Linked DNA regions of Homo sapiens: all the other regions are linked to region 2. The links come from fine-mapping of genetic effects on gene expression. A gene starts in region 2. Each other region holds a variant in brackets. All regions are shown on one strand. Distances are between the middles of the regions.

Evidence for each region. PIP is the estimated chance that this variant, and not a neighbour inherited with it, causes the effect.
Region 1: its variant is the best candidate, but not a certain one, in a credible set for the expression of MAP3K5 in thyroid (GTEx, PIP 0.71).
Region 3: its variant is the best candidate, but not a certain one, in a credible set for the expression of MAP3K5 in whole blood (TOPMed, PIP 0.53).

Annotation. Positions count from the first base shown.
Region 1 is chr6:136,596,464-136,604,645 of GRCh38, forward strand. It overlaps MAP3K5 (mitogen-activated protein kinase kinase kinase 5), which reads right to left. Exons shown (of 30, transcript NM_005923.4): 20 at 5,339-5,516; 21 at 4,559-4,579. Among named protein-coding and RNA genes, the nearest start is that of MAP3K5-AS1, 29 kb to the right of the region's middle. The variant A/G (reference allele first, on the strand shown) is at 4,518.
Region 2 is chr6:136,788,310-136,796,491 of GRCh38, forward strand. MAP3K5 (mitogen-activated protein kinase kinase kinase 5) reads right to left here and starts at 4,168. Exons shown (of 30, transcript NM_005923.4): 1 at 3,401-4,168. The coding sequence starts at 3,848. RefSeq lists enhancers at 2,918-3,433, 3,539-3,608, 4,399-4,628, 4,739-4,798, 5,169-5,248 and a silencer at 3,739-4,378.
Region 3 is chr6:136,838,824-136,847,005 of GRCh38, forward strand. It overlaps PEX7 (peroxisomal biogenesis factor 7), which reads left to right. Exons shown (of 10, transcript NM_000288.4): 4 at 6,792-6,869; 5 at 7,250-7,358. Among named protein-coding and RNA genes, the nearest start is that of PEX7, 20 kb to the left of the region's middle. The variant A/G (reference allele first, on the strand shown) is at 3,485.

The sequences.
Region 1 (8,182 bases), 190 kb before region 2:
TACTTCAAGACGGGAAGCTGTGATGTGGGGCAAAAAAAGGTGGTGGTGTCAGCCAGTGAGGCCATTTGTAGATCAGGGGAAGGACGGGTTTAGGACAAAAGACATTAGAGCATGTGTATATGGAACTCACTGGGAGAGGCAGAAGCTGGAGGAGTCACGGGGGCTCCACAGGAGCCAGAACTCATCTGTGAGGGATTGGCCTTCTGTAGGAAAATGGATGTTTTCTCTATTGTAAGGGGTGGAAAGAGCAAGACAGGTGGTGCTGAGACAGTTTGCTTTATACGTTTGTGGTGGAAATATGATCAAATCCACGCCTGAGATTTCTACCTTCTTAAGTTATGACGATTTCCAGGCAAGTGAGAATGCGTAGTGCCTTTCTGTGTCACTGTAAATGGGAAGAAGCTCAAGTGTAACTATTTCCAGGGGAGCACGGTGACAGTTTCCAGATATCACAGAGGTTACAAGTTCCTCGAACATAAGCTCATACACGTGAGTGATTGGGACCCCAGGCTGCAAGAGAGGAGCCTGGCAGGATTTCCAGTCACAGGCAGCCTTACTGCTGATATCTTGCCAGGTATTAAGAAGCCCTCCTCTATGGGGCTGACCACGAAGAGTCTAAAAGAGGCTGAATGAACCTCTCTGAGGATAGGACATGTCAAAGGTGTGTCTCTAAGGAGATGATTCTCATTGCCTTATTTCAGGGGCTGATGGGAAGGGGTGTGAGCCCCATATCCCCTAAGAGATAGCTTTACCAAGAGGCCAGGAGTAGGCTGGAGTCAGGAGGGGTGACTGGCAACCCTATGGACTCCAGATTGCTGGGAGCTCCCATCTATGGAAGGGAGACAGTGCGACCTTTAAGGAATTAGATACATTCCTGCTTTGGGAAAACGGGGATTTTCTAAATCCCTTCCATTGCTGTGAGGGTGGCCTCAGATCCTAACAGCTATTCATGATCACTAGGGATCTTTATGGTTCTCCTTCTCCTAGACAGTTTAGGAACAGTCTGGCCACAACACAGAGTCTCCTAACTGGCCATCCTGCCTCCAGTCTCCAACTGGCCAAACATAGAATAGTGGTTCTCACACTGCAGTGATGACAAGAATCATCTGGGTTTACTTAAAAGTACAGAATTCCAGCTTGCACCTCCAGATTCTGAGAAGGGCCAGGCATTTTAATTTTTAACAAGCATTGCAAGAGATCCATGCAGGCAGGATCTGGGACCAACTGAGGCATAGCTATATTCCTAGTGCCTTGTGCCTACATTCTAGTGCCAAGTGCATAGCAGAGGGTTAAAAATGTTATGGAATAAATCTTACTAAATAAACCATCCTCACACAGCCATCGGAATGATCCATCAATAGCTTCACTGTCCAATATGGTCACTACTACCCACATATGGTTATTAACACTGACATTTAAATAATAAAAATTCAGTGCCTCAGCCATGGTAGCCATGTTTAGTGTCTAATAGCCACATATGACTAGTGGCTAATGTATTGGACAGGGCAGATAAATGACATTTCTCTTACTGTAGAATCATAGGTCCAGTGCTGGTCTATAATATTATTTCAGATAAAAATTTTCCCCGGCTCCCCAACCCTCCTTGCTGATTCCTTAACATTTCATAAGGAGCCCTTTGGGATCTGAGCCTGCTCCCCACTCCAGCATCATCCCTCCCCTTTTACTTTAAGCACCAGTGCTGCTGAGCCAGCAAGCCTCCCTTAACACACAGTAAAGTTTCACACATCCTGGCATTAACTCATGCGAGAAGTCGCCTCACCTGGATCTCCACTCCCCATTCACCTGTTAAGTTCATATTTGTCCTTACTCATCAGGTGCACCTCACTGGAAAGTCTGCCTTGAAACAGCATTCTCAGACTGACTTCAGTCACTGTCTCTCCCTTTTGACTCCTCTGCACAGACTAAACTATACTATGGTGGAGATGATTTTTTCCAGTGTTTTTCTCCTATAAGGTCAATGGCTCTTTAAAATCAGGAACTCTGTCTTTATCATCCTTATACGTTCAGGGCCTAGCACATTTCCTGTGCACACCATAACTGTACAATTAATATTTAAGCTGACATGAATTACTTAAATCTCTGGGTCTGTGTGTGGCCATGGAAGAGCAGTCAGGATGAGACAAGTCATGTCCCTCTCTAAAGGGGAAGGGGGTCTCATTGTCACCACCCTCTTACTCCCCTCTTGAGGGGAAGCCAAGTGCAGTTATGGGAGGTAGAGAACCTTGAGAGGTGGGCCTGTGCTCTGGACAGAAACACATATATGGCCTATAGAAAGTACCTGGGGAAGGAAGAGGCCTGTATCTTGTACTCATCTAGAAGGAGAGTAAGACGAGCTAATAGGTCATTGTTTCAATTGACATGAGGCAGGCCATTTCCTATAATACCTGGGAACAATCAAATGGGATTTTAGGCAAGGCATGGTGGCACATGTAATCCCAGCACTTTGGGAGGCCGAGGTGGTAGATCACTTGAGGCCAGGAGTTCCAGACCAGCCTGGCCAACATGGCGAAACCCCGTCTTTACTAAAAATACAAAAATTAGCTGGGCGTGGTAGTGGGCACCTACAGTCCCAGCTACTCAGGAGGGTGAGGTGGGAGGATCGCTTGAGCCTGGGAGGCAGAGGTTGCAGTGAGCTGAGATTATGCCACTGCACTCCAGCCTAGGACTCCGTCTCAAAAAAAAAAGGGGGGGGGGGCGTGGATTTTAGCTCCTAATTTGGTTAGCACATCTGTCCTGCTCTCCTAGGAAGGAGAGGGAGGAGGCACATCATCCATGTAATGATATTGTTTTAGCTGAGAGTCTGAACAGTTTAATCATGCAGGGAATTGGGGACTGCCCCTTTTTCTAGGCCCAAGTCCATATGTAAGCAAGAACGGCGAAAGGGCAGTGGGAACCTGACTGACTAGAGTTCAGCAGGTTTACACCGTCCATCTCACGCTCACCCCAAGGTACATAGTCACTGAGAAGACATAGAACTGTCCACTTAAAGGATCTCTCTCTCTCTCTCTCTCTCTCTCTCATATATGCACGCTCTTGCCAAGTGTGTATGGTTGAGTTCACAGAAGTTAAATGCGTGTGTGTGATGGGAAACTATTTCCTGCGAACAAAAACCAAGCCATGTGGAAGGGATAAAACAATCATGGATTAAACTTCCAGGCACAGCTCCAAGGCTCTTTTAGGATATTATTTTATTTTATTCCCAGAACCAAATCTGTGAAGTAGGTAATGTTACCAGCACCGAATGACAGAAGAAATATGCATGTCCCATATTTAGAAAGTGGGTCAATGGGATCAGAACCCACTTCTGTGTAATTCTGAAGTCAGTGCCCATTTTAGGACACCAGAAGCAGGCTGGTCAGAAGGTTGCCAAGCACTGCAGGGCCGACTTTGTGACAATGCAAGGCTGCCTTCCGGAGCCCAGGCTGTCTGTGGAGAAAAGAGGTACAAGGGTGTGCCTGTCTTCTTCTGAGTTTCCCCAGATTCTCAGAATGGAAGAAATGGAAGAAGAAAAAGTAGAGAGGCTGTACCCAGGAAACCCCAATTAACAGGCCTCTACTCTGGGCTGACTGGCTTTGGGGCATCAGAGGAACCTGCAAAAACCTGCCCTTGGCCTGCAGAACCCATGCACAATGAACATTAAGCCCCCTGAACTGTTTGATCAACCACACATCCAACTTAGGAAAATCCAACACCATGCTGTTAATTTTTTTTTTTTTTTTTTTTTGAGACAGGGTCTCGCTCTGTCACCCAGGCTGGAGTGCAGTGGTATAATCACGGCTCACTACAACCTCCACCACCCCAGTCTCAAGCGATCCTCCCACCTCAGCCTCCCTAGTAGCTGGGACCATAGGCATGCACCACCGCACCCAGCTATTTTTCTGTATTTTTAGTAGAGATGGGGGTCTCACCATATTGCCCAGGCTGGTATTGAATTCCTGAGCTCAAGCAATCTGACCATCTCGGCCTCCCAAAGTGCTAAGACTATAGGCGTGAACCACCATGCCCAGCCTCATGTTCATTTCTTTATTATTCTTCTAAATGCTTTAATGGATCTTCTTAGAGCAAATCTACTTTCTCTACCTTCCTAGTTATGATCCGCAAAAGCCAACGTTAGAAAACAAAGGCACAATAACTCCTGGCCACTAAAAATAGAATGTATCACCCCAAAGATGACAGAGGAAGGTATCTGGCATTTACATTTTCCACAAGAAATACATTAGGTAGTCAACTGGTTCCTAGATAAAGAAGCATTTACTTCACTCAAATTGAAGCTGTCAAAAACACAGTCACCATCTTGCTTTTAGGGAGAAAAAATTTAAGCCATCCCCACTCATGAAAGAGAAAGATGAAGGATTTCCAAAGGAATAAGCCCAGCCAGGCTTGCAGCTGCACACATCCTTATAGTATCTAGTACCGCACCCTCCTTTCCCCCCATGTAAGCCAGGAGCAGAGCATGAGGCTACTTGATGGGAAGTCTGGAGTTTATCACACCAGAC[A/G]CCAGGTCTCAGCTCAATGGGCAAAGTAAAAACAAACTCACCATTTGATCCAGCTGAAAGAGCTGTGGAAAGAAAAGCAAACAGCCATGAATAAGCACGTGCTGGGTTTGTTGTTAAACTGAGAAATCAACAAAAAATGAATGCCTGAAATGGGGTCAATGTCCTTTCCAAACATTCAATCTGCCCATTCTCCTCCAATATAAACATCAAAAAACGCCAAGAACAATTGGAACCTTTACTTTTTTTTCTGAGTTATAGACAATTATTGCAAAAATATAATGTACTTATATTTTTACACTACTGTTTTATTTATAGCTGGCAATCTTTTCTCTCTTTCTTTTTCCTTCTTGCCTTTTTTTGGGTGTAATTATTCAGAAGTATATACCCTAAGAGGCAACAGGTATTTTCTACTGCCTTAAAAGAACCTATTACCTACAGGGCTTGGAAATCCAACAGCTCTATAATGGCTCTGTAGGCCCATTTGTGGTAATCTGGGGTTTCAGCTCTAAAAGGCTAAATTTAACCCCTCTTACACTTGAACCTTAGTATCCACAATGTTAGAGTGATATAGATGGTGACATATTAACTACCTACTAACTATGTGATTGAAGACTATTATGTATGAGGTCCCAGCACTTGTGAAATTGATGGAATACAGCTCCCTGATACTGCAACCAAATGCCTGAGAACACTGTGCTAATATTTATACCAATTTCCAGTGATATCTGTAAACAGGTTAGTTTACTTCCGGAAAATTCTTCCATCTTAAAAGCTTAGGATTGAAGGACTCAGACTATATCCTCTTCAATGCAACCACATACCTGAAAGCTTAGGTTGTGTCTTTTTCTTTTTGCTTGAAACTTTTAAAAACTCATCAACAAGCAAGTCGTTAGCACAGGCTCTCTTGTCAGGATCTGGTTCAAAACATTTCAGTATGAATGCCTTGGCCTCTGCAGACATGGACTCTGGGATCTCAGGGTGGACTTTAAACATTCCCACCTAAGACATAAATATAAAAAGTGCAATGTGCCTTCTGAGTGAACATCTCAGCACCTGAACTCCAGCTTCCATAACTTGACCCCCCAATGCAACAAGATCCCTTATCATACAACACAAACTTATGGCTTTTCTCAAAGGGAGATAAGATGTGTTTGCTGCAGGTTATAGAAGATCAACAGAGTGCCTTGGTACCTTTACCAATGGCACAGGCAGAATAATTAGTTGAAGACAGTAGGCAGCACTATGAAGTAATAATTTAGTCCTTCAAAGCTTTAGAACATATTGGTACATTGGCACACAAAAAGGATCTTTATTTTTCTTTCTTTCTTTCTTTTTTTTGAGACAGGATCTCACTCTGTCACCCAGGCTGGAGTGCAGAGTGGTGCAATCTCAGCTCACTGCAGTCTCGACCTCCCAGGCTCAAGCGAGTCTTTCACCTCAGCCTCCTGAGGTAGCTCGGACTACAGGCATATGCCACCACGCCTGGCTAATTTTTTGTACTTTTTGTAGAGATGGGGTTTTGCCATGTCGCACAGGCTGGTCCAAACTCCTGGGCTCAAGCAATCCACCCACCTCAGCCTCCCAGAGTGCTGGGATTTCAGCCACGAGCCACCATGCTCAGCCACCGAGCTGAGACCACTGCGTTGCTCACAGTAGCTAAGTGCTGGGCATTGTGCTGGGGTTTCTCCACTTACAGATCTCATCAAATCCTTCCAACAATCCAGCGGATTAAATATTTTCCTTGTTACACCAATGAGGAAAATAAGGCTTAGAAAGGATGAGGTAACAAGGCTAAGAAAAGGGAGATCTGGGATTTGAACCTGAATTGTTCGGATTAAAGCCTATGTTCTTTTCCCTATTACATGATTTGTGAATATCTTCCCTGTCTCAAATCACCTGCATTAAAAGAGATATTTAAAAGCACTTTAAAATTAAACAATATTTTTATAACAATTAGAATTTACTTATTACTGCTATTCTAAAAAAAATTAATGGTATTTTCATTTTTTAGTACAGAGCAAATTTTCAAAGGAAATCCTTTTGTTCTTATACAGCTTATGTAAATTCATTGTAATATAAACAATATATAATTATTTGTAAGAATTATATAGCCGATACCATGTGTCAGACACAGTTCTAAGTGCTTGGTACATTTTACCTCATACACTCCTCAAAAAGCTCTTATTATACAGGTACTTTTTTTTTTTTTTTAAGATGGAGTCTCATTTTTTGCCCAGGTTGGAGTGCAGTGGTGCGATCTTGACTCACTGCAACCTCCATCTCCCCAGTCCAAGTGATTCTCCTGCCTCAGCCTCCCAAGTAGCTGGGATTACAGGTGCCTGCCACTGTGCCCCCCTAATTTTTTTTTTTTTTTTTTAGTAGAGATGAGGTTTCACCATGTTGGCCAGGCTGGTCTTGAACTCCTGGCCTCAGGTGATCTGCCCGCCTCAGCCTCCCAAAGTGCTGGGATTATAGGTGTGAGCCACCACGCTTGGCTGACAGGTACTATTTTTATCCTTATTTTATAGATGAGGAAACTGAGGCACAAGCAGGTTAAATAATTTGCTCAAAGTCTCAAATATCTTGACCATGTTGGAGCCTGGATTCAAACACTGTAAACTGGTGCCACAGTCTATGTCATGTCATCTCTCTAAGATAGCAACTTCCTGTGCACAGCTTAGACTGGCCTAATGTGACAAAAAAACACATGGTATAATAATCATTGCATTCGTGAATTATAAAGCAGCATTTCAGATAAGTCCTAGACACTGGAGAAAACCTGAAAGACTGGCCAAGAAGAGAAAGACATCCACTCATGGCAAGAAAGGCACCTCTCTTGGCACCTGCCATTGCTCTCTGAGGTTTGGTCACACTACTCATTTTTATACCAGCAGTGTCCTATCAGATTGTCTTCAAGCATAAAGCCAAGCTTTGCACAAAAGCAGAAGGTCTGTAACAACACATGGCCCCTCACAAGAGGCTATGCACAGATGGAATAAGAGCTAGAAACATGGTCTGCAGCAGGGAGAGGAATAACAATTACCATCAAAAGTCCTCTCAGGCCAAACGCGTGGCTCATGCCGGTAATCCCAACACTTTGGGAGGCCAAGGCAGGCGGAGGGCCTGAGCTCAGGAGTTTGAGACCAGCCTGGGCAGCATGGTGAAACCCCGTCTGTACTAAAATATAAAAAATTAGCTGGGTGTCATGGTGTGTGCCTGCAATCCCAGCTACTCAGGAGGCTGAGGCACGAGAATTGCTTGAACTCAGGAGACGGAGGTTGCAGTGAGCCGAGATCGCGCCACTGCACTCCAGCCTGGGTGATAGATCGAGACTCTGTCTCCACAAAAAAAAAGAAGAAAGAAAGAAAGAAAAAAAGAAAAAAAAAGAAAAGAAAAAGTCCTTTGCCTTGGATCCCACAGGGGAGCACAAAAAATAAATAAATAAATAAATAATTTTTTTTTAAGTCCTCTGCCTTAGAAAGTAGCAGATGTGTGAGTTTTACTACTTGGGAAGCATGTTTCCATTTCAAACTTCCTGTTGGCCTGGCAGTCTGGCAGCGGAGGACTGCAGGGATTCAAGATGCAGGTCATAGCCATGCTCAGTCCCCAGATCTCAAAATGCTGGCACTTGTGCTCTCATGAGCCTATTTCTATTATCAGGTACC
Region 2 (8,182 bases):
CAAACCATAAGAGTCCTAGAAGAAAGCCCAGGAAATACCATTCTGCATCAGCCTTGGGAAAGAATTTATGACTAAGTCCTCAAAAGCAATTGCAACAAAAACAAAAATGACAAATGGGACCTAATTAAACTAAAGAGCTTCTACACAACAAGAGACACTATTAAGAGAGTACAAAGACAACCCTCAGAATGGGAGAAAATATTCACAAACTACGCATTTAAGAAAGGTCTACAAATCAACAAGCAAAACAACAAATAACCCCGTTAAAAAGTAGGCGAAAGATATGAACAGACACTTCTCAGAAGAAGGCATACAAGCAGCCAACAAACTTATGAAAAAATGTTCATCATCACTAATCATCAGAGAAATGCAAATCAAAACCACAATGAGATAACATCTCACACCAGTCAGAATGGCTTTTGTTAAAAAGTCAAAAAATAACAGATGTTGGCGAGGCTGCAGAGAAAAGGGAACACTTACACACTGTTGGTGAGAATGTAAATTTGTCCTGCCACCGTGGAAAGTAATTTGGAGAGTTCTCAAAGAACTAAGAGCTGAACTACCGTTCGACCCAGCAATCCCATTACTAGGTATATACCCAAAGGAAAATAAATTGTTCTACCAAAAAGACACCAAACCAGATATTGAATGTTCTCACTCATAAGTGGGAGCTAAACATTGGGTACAAGTAAACTTAAAGATGGGAGGCTGGGTGCGGTGGCTCACGCCTGTAATCCCAATACTTTGGGAGGCCAAGGCAGGAGGACTGCTTGAGGCCAGGTTTGAGACCTGTCTGGGCAACATAGCAAGACCCCGTCTCTACAAAAAAAACATAGTAAAATAAAATAAAATTAGCCCAGCGTGGTGGCTCATGCCTGTAGTCCCAGCTACTCGGGAGGCTGAGGCAGGAGGATCACTAGAGCCCAGGAGTTCGAGCTAGCAGCGAACCATGATCATGCCACTGCACTCCAGGCTGGGCAACAGAGTGAGACCTTGTCTCTAAAACAAATAAAATAAAATAGAAACAAAGGGTTTGGATAAAACTGATGCACTACCTTCATTCTGTCACATTTTCATGCTTTCATGCTGACTGAGAGGGCACTCATCCTGGGAGTTCATGCCATCCAGATGGGCAGGGGTTAAACTGAGACCTGTCTAGGTTGAAAGAAGCAGTACGAAGGGACAGAGTGGGCGCAGGAAAAAGAGGCTTCCGAGAGCATGCCCTCCCCACTATTCCATACACACCTAAATGCCTGGTAAGATCTTTGCCAGCTCACTCACATGATTCCAAGATAGGGAGCTTCCCTTGATTCTGAGAGTAACTCAGCCCACCTAAATGGAGGAAGCAAGGGCCAAGCACAACCTCTTTTTTTTTTTTTTTTTTTTTTTTTTTTTAAGACAGAGTCTCATTCTGTCACCCAGTCTGGAGTGTGCAGTGGTACAATCTCAGCTCACTGCAACCTCTGCCTCCCAGGTTCAAGTGATTATCCTGCCTCAGCCTCCTGAGTAGCTAGGACTACAGGTGTGCACCACCATGCCTGGCTAATTTTTGTCATTTTAGTAGAGACAGGGTTTCACCATGTTGGCCAGGAGGCTGGCCTGGAACTCCTGACCTCAGGTGATCCACCCGCCTTGGCCTCCGAAAGTGCTGGGATTACAGGCGTGAGCCACCACGCCTGGCCCAAGCACAACCTTTTAGGGTCAGCCACCTGAAGTGGAATCCTGCATTGGCCACTTACTCCCTATGAATCCTAGGGCCAGTTAGGGATCCCTGGGTTTTCTCACCTAAGAAGGTAAGTACTTCCTTCACAGGCTTGTTTGGAGGATTCAATGAAATACACTCAAACTTCAGCTCCCTTCTAATCATTCTCTCTCCCTTTCCCAGAGACAGTATTTGGAGAATAACAGAAACCAAGCCTTGTTAGGAAAGTTTCTTTCAAATTAGCTTAGAGTTTAACATTTTTTTTCTAGAGCCCTAGGAAAAAAACGCCCAATCAGTGCAATAAAAATAGGCTCAAGTGTTCAGTTGGGTATTTTCCTCTCATATCTTTTAGTTCTTTGAAGTTTCTTCCAAATTATAATCCAAAAATAAGAGTGCTACAATTTTTAGAAAAGTTATGTTGATGTAACTTTTATAGCAAGCTACCCAAAGAATCAAGCTATATTATAGCCATGCTCAGTTATGAAGACCAAAACTATTTTAAAAATACCAGAACGAGAAAGTCCTAGTTTATTTAGTCTGGCTTCCTTAACATGAAGGTCTTGTTGTTCTCAAAATATTCAGCTTTGGCTGAATTCCAAAACTGACATAAGCCCACTTCAGGTGTTTGGAAGACACTAAAGAGAATCAGAATTGAAAACAAGATTGGAAAATAAAGCCTTTTATGTGATCACAAATGCAAGAAGTGTATTGTTTTGAAACTACTAAACCAAGTTTTTACCCACAAATGTAAACATAAATATGTATATATTCTCAACACTGGACGTACAGGGGACTAAAGGTTAATTTCCATAATATGGTATTATTCCTAACATTTGCTAACAGCTAAGTGCTTCAGTTACTAGAACTGCCTTAACATTTTCTGAAATTTGAGATAGGTTGAAAGATACATTTCTTTCATGGATTATGCTAGCAATCACTTTAATGGCGAAACTAATCTTATTATTAGGATAGCATACAGGTGTTTTAGACAATGTTAAATTACAAACTTTCTAGCCCACCATGGTTTATGGGGTAATAAAAAACAGGCCCTGGTTCTTTCACCAAAATCCTTACAAAGATAACACACAAGTTCAGTGTAAGTTGTAATGTTATTGCCTTTGGAAGCACTGTAATTACTTCAAAGTCTGGGTTGGTGAGAGGAAATTCAAGCTACTAAAACTTATCGAAGGTAAGGTGAGTTGGGAAGATCATCACATGGCATGCAAATTAATATAGTTACACTCTGCGTGCATGGTATGTCATCGTTCCCGTACTCTCAAAACTACACAGAGAAAAGGAGAACCTCATCTAAAACGGTCACAGGTATATGCAGAAAGAAAACAGGGACCAAACCTCACAGAAGCGAAACCGAGACACTGAAAGGAGAAAGACTGACTGGGGCAAATATCTCACACTGCTGGAGAACAGTTCAAGTCGATCGCATGGACCCAGGGCTCCAGCGCTGGGCGGTGGGTGGATCCATAGGTCTATCGCACAAGTACACACAGACTCTTGCACAAGCACACACGCTCTCTCCGGAGCGGCGAGCGACAGGAGCAGTCACGCAGCGGCGCTCGCTGCCCCCAAAGTGGGGCAAGAAGTAAATGCTTCCCGCCCAGAAAAATGAAATGCCCCGAAGACCGCCAGATTAAACGCGGGTCCCGACCGCGCGGGATGGGAAAGGGGTCACACACGCACCTGCATTGTAAAAGCGGTCCAGCACGGTGGTTTCTCCAAAGTCGAGTTTCCCAAAATGCAGGGTTTCCAGGGTGGCGCCCACTGTCTCGCACGCCTCCCGCAAGCTCTGCAGGGCCTCGCTCTCGGCCACCACCAGTTGCCCTTGGCTCGCTTCGTTGATCACATATGCCACCGTGGTCCGTCGGCTGCCCCCGCCAACAGAGCTGCCCCGGCCTCGGGTGGCACTGCTCGAGGAGGTGGCCGCCGGACAACCGATGCCAGGGGCAGCGGCGCTCTCCACGTTCCAGAAGCTGCCCGGCGGCGGCGGTGGCAGCTGGTGCTCCTCGCCCTCGCCCACCGCCGCCGCTCCTCCCCTCCTGCAGATGCCGCCCTCGGGGATGGTGCAGAAGCCCGAGGGGGCGAAGGGTGGCACAGAGAAAGTGATGCCCTCGTCCGCCTCCGTGCTCATCTCTCCGGGCCGGGCAGCAACGGCGGCGGCGTCCCCCGCCCAGCCGCACCGCCTGGCCAGCCACAGCTCGGGGCTGCTCCGCGCCCGCCGGGCTAAGCAGCTGCCATCGCGCGCCGCGCCCTCGCCGCCGCGCCGCCGCCTCCTCTCCGGCGCCCTCTCCCCCGAGGGCACGCCGCTGCCCGGCGGCGGCTCGCTCCTCCTCGGCGCCTCCGTGGCCGCGCCGCTCGCCCTCTGCAGAGTTTAGAGTACAAGGGGTGGGGAAGCCGGGTGAGCGGGAAGGGACGGAGCTTCCTTTTCTTGGCCGGCTGACAAGTCGGCTCGCAAACCTGCGCCGCGGTGCAGCTCAAGGGCGCCGCGCTCGGGGTGCAGCCCGCCCTCGCCACCCGCCGCGCCGCGCCGCGCCGCGCCGCGCAGCTCCTTCCGTCCCGGCCGCTCTGGGAGGGGCCAGGAAGGGCGCCCCCTGGGTGCGGAGCTACCTGGCGCGCACCTTACGAGCGGGCTGGCTCCCCAGGCGGCGTCCCGGAACAGCAGCAGCGGCAGCCGAAAGGACCCTCCTCCCTCTTAGGCGGCAGCTCGCCTTCATCGGGTGGATTTCCTCCTCCTTGCCTGGCCTCGTTTCTCTTTCGATCGCCTCCGCCGCGTGGTCCCGGCGCCAGCCTCGTCGTTCCTTGCAGACGCTCTCCCTCTCCACCACCAGCTTCTGGCCACCCACTCGTAGCGGCACCGAGGGTCAGGGCCAGCCCCCAAGGAGGGCGCTGCTAGGAAGCTCGAGCCCGGACTGAACTGACCGCGCTGCGGCCCTGGGACCCCAGCCCTCCTCTGAGTGCTGCGCGTGGCATAGGGTCCCAGTCTTCACCCACCCGGCCCCCACCTACGAAGACCTGGAGCGCAAGCGATTACGGGGTGGCGCAGAAAGTCCCTCGAGGCAATACTCGGTCTTCGGAGTCCGCCCCTGAAGCATTTCCAGTGTTCCCCGCGACTAGGGCGCCCCCCTCCGGGCCTTGGCGGCCTGGTGGACTGGGACCGTGCGCGGCGCTGGCAGGATAGGCTCCGGGAGACCCACGTTGCGCGAGGCAGGAGGTTGTACATAGCGCCCTGGAGCCAGGGCCTGCACTGGAGGTTGCTTCATTAGTGACTGTGGCACTCCAGAAGTGGCTGGCTAAATTGATCAGGTTCTCCCATGTACTTTTCCTTTTAAAATTTCCAGTGGCTCATTCCGTTATCAGTAATGAGTAATTGATTAGTGCCAACTGCCGAAGGACTTAGTATTCTCATTTAGGATCTTAATTCCCCCACAAGCGCCAGATACTTAAGATAGAAGATGGAGTCTCTACCCGACTCCACAAATTATCAACAAGATGAAACAGGGGAATAACGTGACCTATTCTATTTTTTAAACTGCATCACGCGAGGCCGGGAGGGAAATACCCAGATTGTTTAAGAGCAATCAAAAAAAGTACCTGCTTATTTGGGGAGCAAAGAACAGATGTGTAAGTTCCCAGAGAACCCCAGAATGCTGTAATTGTTAGGAAAGCCAGTGCAAGTTACAACTGAGTAAAGAAACAGGTTTTGTACTTCCCATCTCCAGGAACTGAGACTAGTGAGTCCTGTGAAAAAGGCAGAAGAAAATGTAAATTACTTTTTTTTTTTTTTGAGACGGAGTTTCGCTCTTCTTGCCCGGGCTGGAGTGCAATGGCGCGATTTCGACTCCCTGCGACCTCTGCCTCCCGGGTTCAAGCGATTCCCCTGCCTCAGCCTTTCGAATAGCTGGGATTACAGGCATGCGCCACCACACCAGGCTAATTTTGTATTTTTAGTAGAGACGGGAGGGGGAGGGGTGTGGGGTTCACCATGTTGGCCAGGCTGGTCTCTAACTCCTGACCTCAGGTGATATGCCCGCGTCGGCCTCCCAAAGTGCTGGGATTACAGGCGTGAACCACCCAGCCCAGCCATGAATTACATTTCAAACTGGGTAAGAAGGAAGGATAAAATAGCTGAATAGTAAAGAATTAAAGGAAAGTCTGGGCGCAGTGGCTCACGCCTGTAATCCCAACACTTTGGGAGGCCGAGGCGGGCAGATCACTTGAGGTCAGGAGTTCAAGACCAGCCTGGCCAACATGGTGAAACCCCCGTCTCTACTAAAAATACAAAAATTAGCTGGACGTGGTGGCAGCCGCCTGTAATCCCAGCTACTCGAGAGGCTGAGACAGGAGAATCGTTTGAACCCGGGAGGTGGAGGTTGCAGTGAGCCGAGATGGCGACACTGCACTCTAGACTGGGCGACAGAGCGAGACTCCATCTAAAAAAAGAAAAAGAAAAAGAATTAAAGGAAAGAGTTCTTTAATTTTCTCCAAGGTGGGAGGATTGCTTGAGCCCAAGAGTTCAAGATCAGCCTGGACAACATAGTGAGACCCCCATCTTAAAAAAAAATAATAATTAAAGGAAGGAAGGAAATAGTCATGAGGAAAAACACCTAGCCGCTACACAACTGTATCAATGAATCAATGTGACATTAGATTTTTCTAAAGGTGTATAAAATAATAGAAGTAAATTTCTAGTAAGGAAACTTTATATTCTTCATGTAAAATGGAATCTATGTGACCCACACTAGCTTTTGGAATTAATATCAATAGTAAAATAGGTAGTGAATCAGTGATTATACTGAAACAAAATGTTGCTGAGCTAGTAATAGTTATGTGCCTTTTAATATTTTCAACAACTTGTCAAACCTCCAAAACCTTGTAGGAGTAAGATAATCCTCCCCGCTATCCTCACCAAGAACCACAAACTCTGGAAATCGATGAGGTTCATGTGTGGAAAACTAAAACGCCTAAATGCTCAAGTAGCATTTTACTGTAGAAATACAAAATCTGAAATTATATATCAAGCTATTTTCCAAAGCTGTAACTTTTTATACCCTCTCACTTTGTGCTTTCCTTCCAGATCCTTTCAGAGCCATTTTCATACACAATTTTTATTTTTTGTTTTACTTTGCTGGCTTTTTTGATTTATTAACTTTAAATATGTTTTTTATGTTAGGCACCCAAACCCCAATACAATGTTGAAATTCTGCTTCTAGCTGGTCCAGAGATTCTCCCTCTACCTAAAAGGCACGGTTTAGGTAATTTATGTTCCATAGCATAGGGTTATGAGATAATGAGGAACTAGCTGGCAAGATTCTGGAAGAAAGGACAGGAATCCAGAGGGTGAGTCTACAGTCAGGGTTCCCTTTGGCTGTGGGATTTTTGTGGATCTGAATTAGGCAGCTGAAAGGCTGAAGTGAATTTTTTTAATGAAAAATAACGGTATTTTGCAAAACAAAACAAAAAGAATGGTGACACCGTTGTGCATTTTCACAAATCTTTTTAATGTCTGGCTTAATAGATGACAGTGGATTCTCATTTCTGCTTCTACATTCATGCTGTTGCAGCATGTTGTTTTGGTTGAAGGGTATAAAGAAAATCTGGAGAAGTTTCTGAAGTGTAGGAGGTATTTGAAGAAGTACATGAAGAAAATACTCTGGGAGGAGCACAGTCACTCCCACTGTGAAGGCACACATGAATTCCTAAAAATCACTGAGCTGTGCAAAATAGTGCTTTTTTTAAAGTAATTTCAAGTTTTATTTTAGATTCGGGGGTACATGTGCAGGTTACATGGATATATTGCATGATGCTCAAGTTTAGGGTACGATTGTTCTTGTCACTCAGGTAGTAGAAAGAGCACCCAACAGTTGGTTTTTCAACCCTTGCTCCCTCCTTCCCTCCCGTCCGCAGTGTCTGTTGTTACCATCTTTATGTCCATGTGTATCCAATGGGACCCTCTCCTGGGAAGGTCTTAAGACCCACAGTCAGAAAGGTGGGGGGTTGTTAGCAGGTAAAAGGAGAGCAGGAAAAAATTAGAGGCCTGCCTCTGAGGCCTAACACACTCAACATAACAGAAGACTATAACGAGGGTTATGGGAGTTACAAGCCAGAAACCACAGATGAAAACCAATATATATCGTAACACCACACTCTGTTCATAGTTTCTTTGGTTGTGCAGAAGCTGTTTAGATTAGGTCCCGTCTGTCAGTTTTTCGTTTTGCTGCAAATTGCTTTTCAGGACTTAGTCATAAATTCTTTCCCAAGGCCGATGTCTAGAATGGTATTTCCTAGGTTTTCTTCTATGATTCCTAGGGTTTGAGGTCTTACATTTAAATCTTTAACCCATCTTGAGTGAATTTTTGTATATGGTGATGGGTAGGGGTCCAGTTTTATTCTGCATAAGGCTAGCCAGCACCACTTATTGAACAGGGAGTCCTTCCCCATTGCTTATTTTTATCGACTTTGTTGAAG
Region 3 (8,182 bases), 51 kb after region 2:
TATTATACTATTCTCTCTACTTTTATGCATGTTTTAAAATTTCCGTAATGAAAAAACCTGAAAATTTAAGTTTCAGGGCTGGGTATGGTGGCTCATGCATGTAATTCCAGCACTTTGGAAGGCCTAGGCAGGGGGATTACATGAGCCCAGGATTTAGAGACCAGCCTGGGTAACATGGTAAAACCCTGTCTCTACAAAAAATTAAAAAATTAGCTGGTGTTGTGGTGTGCACCTGTGGTCCCAGCTACCCGGGAGGTTGAGGTGGGAGGATCAATTGAGCCCAGAAGGTGGAGGCTGCAGTGAGCTGTGCTCGTTCGTGGCACTGCACTCCAGCCTGGGTAACAGAGTGAGATCCTGTCTCAAAAGAGAAAAAAAAGAGAAAATTTAAGTTTCACCTTAAAAGAAATATATAGCCCTTTCTAATCACTCAGTAATTAAAAGTCAGTGACCCTTTCCTTTGTATTCATACAGATAATAATAAAAATTCTGGACATAGTTTTTTATTTGACAATTTTTAATTAAGTAGACCAACTTAAAAAGGGCAATGCTTTACAGTAGATTAAATATGAGCTCTTTGGGAATTGGTTTCAGTAATAAAATTTGTCCTCTCAAACTGTGGTTTTGATGAGGTTCAGATTTCATAAAGCAGCACAAAACATTGTGCGGTGGGTTTTTTTCTTTTCCCATTTTCCTGGTTAATTTTCTTCACCACTGCCAAGAGTAATTTAATCAGATAGGCCTCTAGAGGACCCTGCTCTTAAAGCATAAAGTCAGGCACTGCATATCTCTCTTCCTTTTTATATTTAATTTGACCATTTGCCATGCCCACTATTTGAGTGGGTGTGGACGGGGAGGTTGGGAATAAGGAAGAGATGGAAGAGGAGACTAATAGAAGATGTGCTTTTCATTCAGATTTGTTTCTCTTTTCCTTCATTCATTCCAGAAACTTTTATTAACTCTACTGTGTGCAAGATACTGTACCAGGCTAGCTGGGAAGACAAAACACCTTAGGCATGCCCTTACCCTCCTGGGGTCCTTGCACTGTCTGGGGAGGCAGGATTCTGGTTGTCTAATGTCTAATGTGGTAAGCGCTGTGAATGTATGCAGTGTTATGGGAAGGGAGGATTTGTCTGGGGAAGGGGCAGGGAGGGCATCCTTTGGTCTAAAGGGGAAGTTGGAATGAATTATTCAAGTGGAGAGGCCAGGGTAGTAGTGTTAGAGGCAAATGAAAGAGCATGCTTGACCAGAGAGGATAGAGCCTGTGTGCTTAGAGCTGTCAGCGTTTTGGCCATTGTGCCAAGATCAGTGGAAAGACATTGCAGATTTTAAAAATCAATGAAATATTTTATACATTATAAAATACATGTAAGATGTAAAAATGGTATATTGAACACACATATTCACCATCTAGCTTAAGAAATGAAACATTACCTATACCATTAGCGTCCCCTGCTTACCCTTTCTAGTCTTATCGTTCTTCTCTCTGCTTTTTTTTCTTCCTCGCTTCTTCCCAGGAGTAACCACTAGCCTGAATTTTCTATTTATATATTTTTTGCTTTTCTTTCTATTTTTACTACATATGTATGCATCCCTAAGTCATGCATAGTTTTGCATGATTTTGACCTTTGGGTAGTAAGAATCAGCATGGATGAATCTCACATAATGTTGAGCGAAGATGCTAAGTTGGAGCTACATATAGTGTGAAACCACTGAAAGGCTTTGCACAGGGGAGTGACATTTAATTTGTATTTTCTAAAGATTACTTTTTATGCAGTGTGGATAATGGATTGGAGGTAAACAAAAATGGATGGGGAGAGCAGTTAGAAGGATGTTATAATCTAAGTGGTAACTTATGGTTGATGGTTGTAACCTCTTAAGAGAAATCATAGACAAATTCTTAGCCATAGCCCTTTAGGATCTTATCCCTCCCAGCTATTCAACCTTGCTCTTCCCTGAATCTGGCAAGCTTGTTCCCTGTTAAGGTCTTTCCCTGTTCTCTGTAACCTGAGCCTTTCATCTCGGGTCTGCAGAGTTCAGTCTTTAACTGCACTCAAGTCTCTGCACAGAGAGGTCTTTCCTGGCCATTTTGTTGAGAAGTGACCCCCTGCCCTTGTCATTATTTTCTGTTCTCCTTACTCTGCTTTTTCTTTGTAGTTTTTAAAAAAATTGCAACTTGAAATTATACATTTATTTATAGCATGTTTGCTGCTGCTAAAATATAAGATCCATGGGGGCTGGTCTTATCTAAAATTGTAACCTCCTTTCCCCCCGTGCCTAGTACATAGTAGGTGCTCAATAAATATTTGTTGAATAGATGAGTGAATTGATTGAAGTTGGGATAATGGAATTCATTCTTCCCTTTTCAGCTGTTTCTCAAACATCTCTCTGGCTGTGAACTTTTTTCAGAGCTTGAGGTTAATGCCCAAACCCTGTCTTGCTGTCACCTCAAACTCAGTATATATAAAATTACATTATTTTCCTTCCTCCAGTCTTTCACTTTTGTTAATGCTGCCATCACTGACAGTCCTCAGGCACAAAACCTTGGTGTTATCTTGCAGTGTTCACTACCCCCGATCCCTAGGGTGCTGTATATTCCCATTTATGTGTTTGAGGAAGTTTTCTGGTTACTGTTTCACCTCTGCTTTTTGCCTATTGACATTTTAGCCAGCCCTCAGGGCCCTGCCTCAGTCTTTCTCTTCTGAGCACGAAGCTGAATTTCCATCCAAGCACCCCTTTTGTACTTATGTTTATAGTTTGTTTTGTTTTGTTTTTGAGACAAGGTCTTTCTCTGCTACCCAGGCTGGAATGCAGTGGCGTGATCACTGCTCACTGCTGTCTTGACCTTGACCTTGTGGGCTCAAGCCATCCTCCCACCCCAGCCTCCTGGGTAGCTGGGACTACTGTTATAGGTCACCACACCTGGCTAATTTTTAAAATTTTTTATAGAGACGGGGGTCTCGCCATATTTTCCAGGCTGGTCTCGAACTCGTGGCCTCAAGCGGTCCTCCTGCCTCGGCCTCCCAAAGTGCTGGGATTACAGGCATGAGCCACCGTGCCTGGTGTAATTACTCTTTTTTTAAATTAAAAAAAAAAACCCACACAGTCTCCTGATCTGTTAGTTCCTTTCCCATGTCCTAATATTTTAAACATAGTATTGAGTTGCCTTTCTTTTCTTTTTCTTTTTTTTTTTTTTGAGACAGGTTCTCACTCTGTCACCCAGCTTAAAGTGCAGTGGCACAATCTTGGCTCACTACAACCTCCACCTCCTGGGAGCGATTCTCCTGCCTCAGCCTCCTGAGTAGCTGAGACTGCAGGTGCCTGCCATCACACCTGGCTAAATTTTATATGTTTAGTAGAGACGGGGTTTCACCATGTTGGCCAGGCTGGTCTTGAACTCCTGGCCTCAAGTGACCTGCCCGCCTTGGCCTCCCAAAGTGCTGGGATTACAGGCGTGAGCCACCACACTCAGCCTATTTCCTTCTTT[A/G]TGATCCCATTTTTAACTTCACCACCATGTGTGTCCTATCTTTAGCTCTGTCATAGAGACCTAATGCTTGCTACTTGGTTGTGCAACAGAAGACAGCTGACAGCAACAATGCCATCAGCATGGTTTTCTTACCTTCTATCTTTGATGTTGATTCAGGCTGGATTCTCTTGAGCCGGTGGAGGCTCCTGCAGTTTTAGAAGGTGAGTAGTCATAAGGTGTCACCTGCTGCATCACACTGGAAATGTGTGGAGGCAGTGGAGTCTGAGCTGATGATGAGTATTTACTTAGTAGTTCTCTGTACCTACCTAGCAGTGATTCAGGTTGTAAAGAAAAATTTAATTGGTTAAATTATTTTAACCAATGTTTGAGTGCCTATTTTACTGTGATGAACATAGATGTACAAGATGTTTTGCTCATTAGGAGTCTCCAAAATCTAGCAGGTATGTGAGTTATGTAACATTCTTTTTAGTAAATAAAATATGGTAAATGCTGAGTTAGAAGTAGGTGTGAGCTGCTGTTGAAGGCAGCATATGACTCATTGAAGGACTTATCAGGGGAGGCTTATTTCGTAAGGGATGTAATGGGGCACGTCTTGATGGATAAATGGAAATTCACAAGTGGAGAGGGGCTTTAAGATCTGTGTATAGGTAATTCATGAAAACACAGTGGAATCAATCTAGGCCCAAATGTAGCTCCAGTAAAGGGTGAAACCAGCAGGGGTAGAGCTTTAGTTCCTTGATATCATGGCTTAAGGTAGCCAAGAAGTTCTGATTCAACAGTGCCCTCAAGTAGCATGCTGTACAGATAGCCTCACATTGCGATTAAAAGTGGACTCTGCAATTAGGCTGCCCACGTTCAGATTTCATATCTGCACCTTACTAGCTTTGGGACTCTGGACAAGTTACTTAACCTCTCTGGGCCTTGATATAGTATCTACTTCATATAAATGAAGATTAAATGAAATAAAATACATAAAGTGCTTATGAACAGGATCTGACACTCAGAGTGTTCAATAAAGGTTTGCTATTTTTATTTTTGACTGTTTACATCAGCCTAGAGCAGGGGTTGGCAAACTACGTCATGTGGACCAGGACCAAATCTGGCCTGCAGTTAGATTTACAAATAAAGTTTTTTTGGAATCAAGCCATGCGCATTCATTCGGTATTGACTATGGCTGCTTGGTGTGTGCTATAAGAGCTGGGTTTAGTAGTTGTGACAGTGACCAAATAGCCTGTAAAATCTAAAGTATTTACCATATGGCCCTTTATAGAAGAAATGTACCTTTTTTGAAGAAACTTACCATTTACTATATGGTCCTTTGTAGGCGAAATTTAGAGGATAAAATCAAACTCTTTAGCTCTCAAGATCTTCAGTGATTGCTTCCAAACCAGCCTTTTTTCTATCCATAACTAACAGATGGCCACAGCAGCTCTTTGGTTTTCACTGGCCCTTCTATTCCTTTTATAGCTGCTGTCTGTTGCTGGATTGTGCTTCCTTTAGTGTTCCAACTACTCTTCTGTCTTTTGCGTGAATATGGGCAGAGGCAGGGCCAGGACTAGGGTAGAATGTGTGAGGCACTCACTCTAGGTACACAATTTAAGGGGGCCCCAAAAAACTTGATAATCAAGATAATTTGTTAATGTTTTTAAAAATAAAAATTAATGCAAAAAACCCATTATGAACAAAATATCGATATTTTACTTTTTTTGAAGCTTAATATTAATTTTATTAAACTTTTTTCCAGGTTTATTATGATTGGCAAATAAAAATTTGTAGGCTGGGCACGGTGGCTCATGCCTGTAAACCTAGCACTTTGGGAGGCTGAGGCGGTAGGACTGCTTGAGCCTAGGAGTTTGAGACCAGCCTGGGGAACATGGTGAGACACTGTCTCTACAGAAAATAAGAAAAAAATTAGCTGGGTGTGGTGGCACGCAAGCGTGACTCCAGCTACTTAGGAGGCTGAGGTGTGGGAGGACCGCTTGAGCCCAGGAGGTCATCGCTGCAGTGAGCTGAGATTGTGCCCACTGCACTCCAGCCTGGGCGACTGCGCAAGACCCTGTTTTGGAAAAAAAAAAAGAAAAATCTAAGTTGTACAGCTTAGGGTTTTGATCTAAATATATCTTGAGTAATGATTCCTACAGTCAAGCTAATTAACATATCCATCACTTGAATGGTTACCATTTTCTTGTGTGTGAGATAAGAACATTTCAGATCTACTCTCAGCAAATTTCAAGTATTCAGTAATACATTATTATTTATAATAGTTACCATGGTGTACATTGAATCTCTAGAAATTATTCATCTTATAACTAAAAGTTTGTATCCTTTGACCAACATATCCCCATTTCCCCCACCCCCAGCCCCTGGCAAACACTACTCTACTGTATGTTTCTCTAAGTTTGACTTTTTTAGATTCCACCTATAAGTGACGGGATCAGTATTACTGATGTTTTTTTTCCTCAGCCTCCAACATGGCTCAATATAGTACTGGGCAGCAGAGAGAAAGTAACCCACATGTAAGCGGCTTAAGCCCAGATACTCATACTTCCTACGTATATGTGGGAGAGAGTAGTAAGATTCAAAGTAACCTGCTGGCTGATCACCAATGTGATATACCAATGGCATATACTCAGGTCCTTGTCAGGACTAATTTCATAAAGTATAATTATGCACATATTTTGTTGAACTTAGTTTACAGCAGTGATCTGTGTATAATCTGTTGTATAAAATGAAAGAATGAAAACATTTCCAAAAGTTTTCAAGTAGTTCATTTGAAATGGTTCACTGAGAGCAGTGAAGCATATACTTTAGAATAGCAGCATTGGATAACTAAAACTGTTTACCAAGAGATCTGGAAGGATCACCTGGTTCCTGCAAGCTTTTTCTAAGAAAGGCCAGATAGGGATATTAATTGAATTTTAATGCTTTCCAATAAACATTGACCCAGCAAGCTTTTTTAGATGACTAACTTTCTAATCTGCTTTGACATTTCTTCGTGGGGCTGCAAACAGTGATTTGTTGGTAGGTTTTAAAATATGTATAATTTGTTTTAGTGAAGAAGGTTTGGAAGTATACTGTAGAATTCTGTGAAAGCAGAATGGAGTCTTATCTGTAAGGAATAAGTCTGGAGGAATGGACAAGATCAACTTTTCATTTCTCAGACACCTTGTTGAGATGGATAGGAATTATTTGATGTTTTGACATAGTAAATTAGTTGTTCTGCCTCTCATTGTTATGTAACAAGAGATAAAATGCAATGTTGAACTTGATGGTCTTTTGCTTTCTAAACACTTTTCAATGTTTTTAGGTGTATAGTGTTGATTGGAGCCAAACCAGAGGTGAACAGCTTGTGGTGTCTGGCTCATGGGATCAAACTGTCAAATTGGTATGTTAGCATTATTGTATTCAAAAACGAATATTCCCTTCTCTAGAGCTTCCACTAAATTTTCTTCTCTTTTTCCAACATACTTCTGTAGCTCTATGATTCGACAGCTGAGCTTTCTTTTAAAAAAAAAATTAAAACACTTATTAGAACTTAAAATTTTCTAATCTTTTGGCTGTGAACTAATAGTTAGCTCAGCATTAGTTTGGCCCTTAAATACAGTCTTGCTTTATATCAAAACAGATCTTTAAAAATCCTTGAGATCTGTATATATATTGTATGCATATATATAAATGTATATAGTTTATTGGTGTATGTAGTATATGTAAAAGCATAAATTTGAATTTATCCCTCAAGTAATTGATCTATTCATTTATTTGTAGTGGGATCCAACTGTTGGAAAGTCTCTGTGCACCTTTAGAGGCCATGAAAGTATTATTTATAGCACAATCTGGTCTCCCCACATCCCTGGTTGTTTTGCTTCAGCCTCAGGTAAATTATTCTGTATTTACCAAAAGCCTTACTTGTAGTGAATGGTGGCCTTGTTTTTACCATTAGGTGGCGCTGTGTACCTTAGCTTCAGAGAGAAAACAGGAGAATATTACTATTCTTTTGTGTTCTTAAGACTTTACTTCTTTTTTTATTTTTATTTTTTTATTTTTATTATTATACTTTAAGTTCTAGGGTACATGTGCACAACGTGCGGGTTTGTTACATGTGTGTGCATGTGTGCCATGTTGGTGTGCTGCACCCATTAACTCATCATTTACATTGGATATATCTCCTAATGCTATCTCTCCCCCCTTCCCCCACCCCATGACAGGCCCCGGTGTGTGATGTTCCCCATCCTGTGTCCAAGTGTTCTCATTGTTCACTTCCCACCTATGAGTGAGAACATGCGGTGTTTGGTTTTCTGTCCTTGGAATAGTTTGCTCAGAATGATGGTTTCCAGCTTTGTCCATGTCCCTACAAAGGACATGAACTCATCCTTTTTTATGGCTGCATAGTATTCCATGGTGTATATGTGCCACATTTTCTTGATCCAGTCTATCATTGTTGGACATTTGGGTTGGTTCCAAGTCTTTGTTATTGTGCATAGCGCCGCAGTAAACATACATATGCATGTCTTTATAGCAGCATGATTTATAATCTTTGGGTATATATCCAGTAAATGGAATGGCTGGGTCAAATGGTATTTCTAGTTCTAGATCCTTGAGGAATCGCCACACTGTCTTCCACAATGGTTGAACTAGTTTACAGTCCCACCAACAGTATAAAAGTGTTCCTATTTCTCCACATCCTCTCCAGCACCTGTT